2 separate regions of the Homo sapiens genome follow, and region 2 is linked to region 1. Evidence: fine-mapped expression QTL. A gene starts in region 1. The other region holds a variant in brackets. All regions are shown on one strand. Distances are from middle to middle. Region 1 holds the start of AMOTL2 (angiomotin like 2). Region 2 has its middle 16 kb from the start of MIR6827.

Evidence for each region. PIP is the estimated chance that this variant, and not a neighbour inherited with it, causes the effect.
Region 2: its variant is the best candidate, but not a certain one, in a credible set for the expression of AMOTL2 in esophagus mucosa (GTEx, PIP 0.55).

What each region holds. Positions count from the first base shown.
Region 1 is chr3:134,372,274-134,376,654 of GRCh38, reverse strand. AMOTL2 (angiomotin like 2) reads left to right here and starts at 2,208. Exons shown (of 10, transcript NM_016201.4): 1 at 2,208-2,313. RefSeq lists enhancers at 551-1,348, 1,349-2,148, 2,149-2,948.
Region 2 is chr3:134,349,280-134,353,660 of GRCh38, reverse strand. It overlaps the pseudogene RPL39P5. Among named protein-coding and RNA genes, the nearest start is that of MIR6827, 16 kb to the left of the region's middle. The variant G/A (reference allele first, on the strand shown) is at 2,541.

The sequences.
Region 1 (4,381 bases):
GTGTCCCCTGTGCACATCTGCCTCTGGCACATCTGAACAGTGGTCACCTTCTCCACCAACTATCCTGCAGAGCTGGGGTGGCCGCCAGCTTAGGTAGGCTCCACCGCAGGCCATGCCTGACAGATCTTGCCTTCTGTTCTTTCTGCAGAGAGAAAGGGAAAGGAAAAATAAAAGTACATGCACATTTCTCATTTAGGTTTTGGGATCCCTCTCCCGCTTCTGTCCCTTTGGGGACAGAAATTAGCAATCATGGGGGCCTGTGTGGCTCTGCAGCAGGCTTGTCCACTCCAAGATGTACCTCCTTCACCCTAGCTGCCTTGAACTGACGCCTTTCTGCAACCATCTCAAGAATATTTGTCAAACATTTTGTCAGGTATCCTCCCAAATGCCTGAAAGACAGGACTGTACCATGTGGTCTTTCCCCTGGTTTTACAACCCGAGTGCACATGTCCACAACCACTCCCCTGCCTCCACCAATTATGCTGTCCATAAGGTAAGGCCACTCAGAGACCTCTTTCCTTTCACTTCTAAAATTCCTACCTACAGTGGTATACTGATCACAGCTTCTCTTCGTAAGGGGATCCTTGGAAAGACAAATATCCCGTAGCTTGGCACAAATGATCCATTTGCTCAATCATCTCAGATCCAATCACTGTTTGAAACACAGTATTTGACTTCCAAGTAAAACACACACGTGCGCACACACACACACACTTTTTGTGAGTTTTATTAAAAATTAACAATGTCCCTGGCAATTAAGCTTGCAGAATTTCCTTGTCCTTGTTTCCCTCCAGTGAATTTGGGACTTGCAAACTCCATGCTGATGGGAGGACCCAGCCAGGGGTAGAAATCAGCCCTGACTCTCTGGGTGGACAGGGGCCTGACTGCCCCCACCTCACCCCAACTGACTTGTAGAGAGGGCTTGTGTGATGGGGAACGGGGACAGCATGTGTCAGAGCGAGCTTTCTGAAGAAGGGGTTTCCATCTAGCAGTGGAAGTGTCCTGGGGGCAGAGGAGAGGATTCCATGCAGGAGCCACAGAAGTGGGTACAGGGGAAAGCCCCTGGCTGGCAGGGGTGTAGGGGGAGGTAAAGAAGAGACTAAAGCAAGGACAGGGTAAGTGGAGAGAGGAGGGCTCCCAGTGTCTGCCCTGTCCATCTAGGGAGCCTGGATTCTGATAGCCAGGGAGGGGTTTTGAGAATGAGAAACCAAGCAGCCCAGTGGTTGATTACCTGGTTCTCACTGTGTGTGACTCTGGGCACGCTGCTTAAGCTCTCTGAGCCCTGGTGTCCTCATTTACAACACAGGGATGATAACAGAACTCCGTTGGAGGGTGCTTGGCAGGGCTGAATCGGATGACTGGGCGAAAAGCCAGCGGTGGCACACCTTGCACTCTGCGTAAAGGGGCGCCTATTATCACCTTGGGGAAGAACTGGACAGAGCGCCTGGCGGCGGGTGATTCAGTTGGGTAGGTGGGTCAAATTGACCGGATTTTCCAACCCAGATTCACACTTCCTGTCGAGACGGTCGTAAAATAGCTGGCGAAGGTGTTTGTAAACAAAAGTGCATTCAAAGGTTGCCGCTGGGGGTGAAAACAGCGGGGGTTAGGGGAAAGAGGCTCTGTGGCTGGAAGCATTCACTTAGCCCGGGGCACTGTCCCAGCCCAGAGGATATGGATGTCTTTGCAGTCCCTCCTCCCTTTCCCACCTCCCCCGGTACACACACACGCACACACACACACACACACACACACAGCCGGAGTCCCCTCCCGCAGCAACCCCAGGACACGCGTGGTACAGCCCTTGCTGTCGTCCCGTCGATGGGTTTAGGGATGAAGGGTGAGAGCGGGTCGGCGACTGGGAGTGGAGGCGATAATGGGCAGAGTTGGATTAAATTGTCTCCAGCAGCTCCGAAGGCAAAGCATGGGGCAGGGGCGGACACACCGCGGCCTGGAGGGCGCTGGGCGCGGAGGAACGGAGCTCGGGGGCCGGGCCGGCGCTCGGCCAGCAGCGCCGCCTCCCCGGAGGAAGGCGGGGGCCGGGAGGAGGGAGCGGGAGAAGGCGGAGGGCGGAGGAGGGCGGTGCGCTGAGAGGTTATTTGTGGTTCGCTTTGATCCCGAGGGGGAACCTGAAACTCTCACATTCCTGGCATAGCAGCCGCCTCCGGCGCGGGCCGACCCTGGGGCTGCGCGCTGGGGCGCGAACAGCCAGAGCGTCGGCGCCACGGCCGAGAACACATCTTCGCCGCCGAGCTGAGCTGGGCCGAGCCGGAGGTTGTGGTGTCTGACTGCGCTGGGCACCCTCGGGCCGCAGCGGTAAGGAAGGCCGCTCGGCGCTCGGGAGAGCGCGCGAGGCCACAGAAACGTGCCCCAGCCAAAGCTGGAGTCTCGGCGCAACCCGGCCTTTTCCGGGAGTCGGAGCCTCGAGGATCGAGCGTCCTCGGGGCGCAGTGCGCCCTTTCGAGGCAGCCGCAGTGCCTGGCAAGGGCCGCTCTGCCCAGGGAGCGCAGCGCGCTGGGCTTTGCGGGGCTCTAGAAACGCGCGGGTCTCTTGGGGCTGGGGGAGAGGGGAGAGGGCCGACTCCGGAGACAACAGCCACAGTGTTTCGGGTTGCAGGTCGGCGGGGGTGGGGGTGGCGGGGGACAGGGATGGAGGCGCCGCTTGGAGCTCAAGTTGCAGGGTCCTGCGGGCTGATTTGGTTAGGTGGGGGTTACAGGTGCCTTTGCCCCCAACTAGTCCAAGAATTCCTCTTTGTCTTCCTTGGAAAATCCTCTCTGGAGCCACGAATTGGCCCTCACTTAGAAAGAATGCAGCCTGCTGTCCAGCCCGGTGACGTCAGCGTTAGAGTATTTGGAAAACAAAGAGGGCTCGAGAGGGAGGGAGGCGGACCCGCGATGCTTAAAGACCTCTCCGGGCCTCGGGCTACCCTCACCGGCTCGCCCCAGGCGTACCAGCGGCCACCGGTGCTCCAGGTCCGCCCGGGCTCGTGGTGGGGCGGGAGCCCTGGCTGGGGTGCCAGAACCTCCTAGCTTGGAGACTGTCTTTGGTTCCTTAGGCGAGCAGGAGCCCAGGCCAAGGCTGGAGACGCGCGCTGGCTTAGAAAGGCGGCCTTCAGAGAGCGCAGCGGGCGAGTGCAGCAGAGGTTCGCGGCCGGGGGCGCGGAAGCAGGTTTTTGTAAAGGCCCAGGCGTTTGATGTCTGAAAGGACGTGAATCTGAGGGGCTTGGCCGGGACAAATTCGCGATGAGAGGCCTTGGAGATGTTCCTTGCTCCCAGTCCGGGCACACTATGGAGCGCCTGGAATCTGTCAGGAAGGCTCCGCATTCCTTCCTGCCGCTCCCCTGCCTTCTCTGTGGGAGTCGGCCCAGAGAGTGATTATCATAGGAAATGCCCGCAGATAAAACTCCAGGGCGAACTGAATCCCATACGAATTGAATCCCATTTGCTTGCTTTGCCTCGGGTAGCTCTGGAGTCTTGCACATCTACCCCTCGTTGTGTGTGGGGGGCGCATGACTGGGTGCCAGGAAGGATGGGTACAGAGGTGCCCTCCAGACTCATCCCCCACTCCCCAGCTCTGGGCAGCTGGAGTACTGGGGTGGGGAGAGGGAAAAGATCGGGAATGGCTGCTCTGCCAACATGCCATAGCCCAAACTGAAGCAGGACACTAGGGCTAGTTTAGTGGCAGAGGAGGGGCCACATTCCTCCCACCCACCCCCCCAACCCCTGCCCATACACACAGGACCTGTGGCAGTGTGGATTCTGTTTAGTTTTCCCTGGATCCCAGTTTGGAGATTTGTGTTGGAAGAGGCTGTGGAAAGGAAGCTGGGTGAGAGAGGCAGGCAGATTTCCAGTCCATGAACCACTGGGAGCCCAGGCTTAGAAGGGAACTCCTTTCTCCGATATAATCTCCCAGCACTTTAGGCTCACAGTCCCCTCTCCCCTGCCCCAGGTCTCTCAACCAACAGCCTCCCCTTACTTCTCCAGTTGGCCCAAGTCAAGATGGGCTTCCTTGACACTGATGTCAAGAAAGATGCTGAGTGCCCATCCCTTATGTGCCTAGAGGACCAGTGGGGGCTTTTCCAAGTAGCGTGTGTGTGTGTTTGTGTGTGTGTGTGTGTGTGTGTGTGTTGGGGAGGATAATCATAAAATCAAAGACATCATGCCATCCTTCCTTTTTCCTGGAGCTCTCTTGCAGTTACTGTCAGCACAAAAGACTGACCCACTAACCTTAATGGGTGGCACCTTTTTGCCTCATCTTACAAAACCATTGTCCTCTTGAAGCATTTTTATTCATCCTTTATTCACCAATTCAGGTGCAATTACTCCTTCTTCCTGTTCACCTTGCAGAATGACTGCCAAGGTCATCCCATGACAGGGAGCCCCAG
Region 2 (4,381 bases), 23 kb after region 1:
TCCTGGACGTGCCATGCCTGGATCTAACACATGGGTGAAGTGCCACAGCAATTGAACCCTAAGCATCTTTTTTTTTTTTCCAAACAAGATAGAATTCACATACCATAAAATTCACCCTTTTGAAGTGCACCATTCAGTGGTGTTTTGTATCACAGCATCTACTTTAAGCCAGCGGTCAACCACGGGTCATCAGCAAATGCCCCACCAGTGGGCCATGTGGACACAATTAGAAGTGTTATTGGATCTGCTGCCTTCACACTTGTCGGCTCCTCTTTCCTAGGCTGACACTTTGAACTTTCTATTGCAGAGAGTCCCCTTTCACCCATCCTGGGCCCAGCAGCCCCAGAGTACCTCTGCTGGGCTGCAGCCAGGACACTATCTGCTCTGAGCTGGAATCTCCCACATTTCATTCCCTAGGCTGCCAGGGTGGAGGTCCTGAGGTTTGGAAAGGAGGCCCATGAGCCCTGAGCCCAAGGCACCCATGTTTGCTAAGGTTTGCCAGAGTCAAGGAGAATTGGCAGGGGTCGGTCCAATTTTGTGAGGCCTGAAGCCTGTATAATTTGGAGGACCCTCTTGAAGAAAAAGAATGCAAAGTGGTGAATACAAAATTAGATCTAGAGTTTTGGAAGGGGCTTCTTCAAGTGAGCACCCCGAGGTACAAGATTCATTAGCTTCACAGTAAATCTGTCTGTCTGGGCATTGGGCATTGTGTTTCCCTGATGGGAATGGAGCCCTGGGAAGTACCCAGGACTTGGGTTCATCCTTGTCTCTCCCAGGTGAGGCTTGGATCTGGAAGTCAATGAAGTTGCAGTTTTTCTTCTGCAGATGAAGTGGCTGGTACTGGATATCCACTAAAAACAGCCCCCTCTGTAGGGTGGAGGTACCCACAAAGGGAGCCTGCGGTCTAGGCGCAGGATGGGGTTATCACCACAGAGCCTGGATGAAAGGGCTGACCAGTTTGCTGAGGACCAAACTGTAAATGACTCTCATGTGCACCCTGCTCTCGCCCACCAGCCAAACCTCCAGCCCCCAGCAGGAGTGGGAGTGGGGCACATCTGACAGTTGGCTCTCGGTGCCCTGGAGAGCCATGCCACTTGCACTTGATTGCAACAGGGACACATTCTACTCTACTCTGTGGGCCCATCAGCTTTTGATTCTGAGCCAACCTGGTGTCATGATCTGTCCTGAGATAAATGCCTCTTGCAAGTCCAAAGGCTCCTACCTGGGGGCACATTCCAGGTGTGTTGGGCAATAATTTGGTTATTTCCCTGCACAGGTTTGCCTCTTCTTGCATCAAGTTGGCCTTCTTTTGAAGCTTCAGGAGCCTTGAAAAGAGCCCTGCCCAGTCTCTCTTCTGAAGCCTTTCTTGCTCAACACAGTGTACTATGGAAATCTTCACAGCATATTGCATTATGGCAAAAATACCAAAATCTCAACCATAGAGTGACTACAAAAACCACGGCTAGGTTTGCCTTGAAAACACAATAACCTTTTTTAACTTAAAAAGAAAAACAGGCCCCTCTCTCTTCCTTTCTCCACCATTGTAGTGTGTGTTTGGCTCCGCCTCTCTCCATGTCTTCTCACAAGACTTTCAAGATTAAGCAATTCCTGGCCAAGAAACAAAAGCAAAATCGTCCCATTCCCCAGTGGATTCGGATGAAAACTGGTAATAAAATCAGGTACAACTCCAAGAGGAGACATTGGAAAAGAACCAAGCTAGGTCTGTAAGGAATTGAACATGAGATGGCACACATATTTATGCTGTCTAAAGGTCACAATCATGTTACCATATCAAGCTGAAAATGTCACCACTATCTGGACAGTTGGACATGTTTTTTTGGGAATATACTTTTTCTCTCTGAATCTGTTAGGAACTTTCTGGTTGGCTGGGTTCCGTAATAAATACATGAGACCTTTCATTTCAAAAAAAAGAAAAATAGGCCTCCTTCCCAGGGGCTCCGGATTTCATCAGCCTTCTGTGCATGCCCAGCCATACAAACCACGCAGGGATGGCTCCAAGTGCACTGTGGCCTCTTTGAACTGCAGGCCTTTGCACATCCCAATCCTTTTCCTCGCAATGCCTTTCTCATCTCTTTTCTCCTCCAGCTTGAACATCGCTTCCTCCTGGCAGCCTCCCCTCTCCAGCTTCCTTTCTGCTCCCACAGGACCATGATGGGGAGGACAGCTGGGATGTGCAGAATGAAGGAACTCTTGCTAGCAGACATTAGTCTGTAGCTCTTCTTGGGTCAGAAGGAGCCACAGGTAAAAAGACGTAACCGAGCTTTTTAATTATACAGGTGTTTACTCTTGTCCTTGCGCTGGTGTCACAGGTGGCCCTGCTTGATCAGTAGCCCTGTAGGATATTCTGACCAAAGTTCCCAAGCCCTTCCTCCTTGGCCAGGTGCCCATCCCCCATTGCCATTCACTGAAAGTGGGAGAGGTGGGAGAGGATAAAAGGGACTCTGTGGGTGGAGTCTTCAGGTCAGAGAAGGAGAAGCTGAGCCCGAGGGCTTGGGGAGCAGAGTGAATGAGCAGGTGGA[G/A]GTGGAGGTAGGTGTGTGAGCCCAGAACTGGCCCTGCCAGATGGCTGGTCCCTGAGTCAGGCCCAGGCGCTGACTGCCACATGGGCAGTAGCCAGCCCCAGCCATGGGAACAGCAGGCGGAATCAGAACTCTCTCCACCCCTAGGAGAGCCGCACCTGCCTGGAGCTTCTCCTGCCTGGCCCTGACAGCCCTGGGCTCCCTCTGGGAGAGGATAGGGGCAGGGGCAGCAGCAAGGGAAGGGTGGGGTGAAACACTTGTTATCAGGGCAGCAGTTCCCAGCCATGCCTTGTAGTGTTTGGGTCCCAAGAACAACTCACAGGGGTTGTTGATCAAGGCCACAAAGATCTGAGCCAGGCAAGGTCCAGGGAAAGGCTTCCCCAGAGCCTCCATGCCATCCCTAGGTGCCAACCTCCCACCCCTTCCTCCCTGGAAGCCAGAGCACCACAATAAAGGGAGGGGGAGAGGTTGGTGATGCCTTCTGGGGAATGGCAGCATTTGTCTCCCAGTCCCTGCCCCTTCTGTTCCCAAGTTCATGGGAAAGGAGGACCTGTCCTGTGCCACAAGAAAGACTCTGGCCTCACACCTGTCAGTGTACCTCTACTTGGGGCAGCATTTTCAAAGGCCTGTGCTCAAGTCCTGTGCCTCTTTCCTGCAGCCCCCAAGCTGGACCGTCAAGGCGTGGTCCTGGGAACAGTGTGGTCAGCTCAGGGGCCTGTGGTTGAACTTTTGCAGCCATCCCACCACTTGTCCATTGAAAGATATTCACCTCTCAGACCTCCCCTTGCACATGTACGCACTCAACTAATAGCCATTAAGGACCCAGCATGTACCACACCCATTCTAGATACTGGGGGGAGTCAATGGGGAATAAAGCAGACAAAATCCCTGCCCCATGGAACTTCACTCTAGCAGGAGTGGGGTGGGGGAAGACAAACAGGAAACTAAACTTGATAGAGTATGGGAGAACAATAATTCTTAAACTCTCTGTGGTGAAAAATCAGTTGTTTTTTTTCAATCTGCATTTGGATTTCTGAGCAATATCAAATTTAGAGATCCCATAGCTAGAGATGCTATAGCATAGAAGCTTCCAAATGCATCCCCTCAATTTCTGTATGTGTGTCCTCTTGCAGTGCTGGTCCACACTGTGTGCCAAGGTGACAAGAGCTTTGGGGGAAAAAAGGGAAGGACAAGAGGGATGAGGAGTTTGAAGCAAGGTGGTGGGGCTGCGGGAGAGTTGCAGTTTTAAAGAGGCGTTATTAAGAAGGTGACATTTGAGCAAAGATTTGAAGGAGGTAAGGGAGTGAGCCATGTGTGTAACTGAGAAATGCGCATTCCAGATAGAAGCTTTAATAAAAGGAAAGAGAATTTATAAACTTGGACTTCAACTGGTTGAAGCCCCGCTGAGGGGCGAAGGGCAGGGGCAGGAAGCAAGGGAGCATTGTAGGAGGGACACCTGTGAAGGAAAGGCCCCCCAAATCATCCCAGGCCCACCAGCATCCTGAGTGGGGCCACAGTTACATTCTACCTGGTCTCCTCTCCTTTCAGAACCTTCTTTCTTTACAAGCCAGCTCTCAACACCTGATATGAGGGTCACTCACAACACAGGCCATTCTTTTAATAAAATGACATTGTTTTCTGTGCTCAGTGCATCTACCTCCAGCTTTGAACACAAGAGGTGCTTTAACCCAGGACGTGGTCTGAGCCCTGCTTCTGCATCTATAGGCACAGGGCCATGACTGTGAGGAAGTTTCTATCCATCTGACTGGCTTCTGCATCTGAGCCCGGGTTATATGGCACAGGAGACATGTGGCAAGATGAAGATTCCTTCCTCCATTGTATGC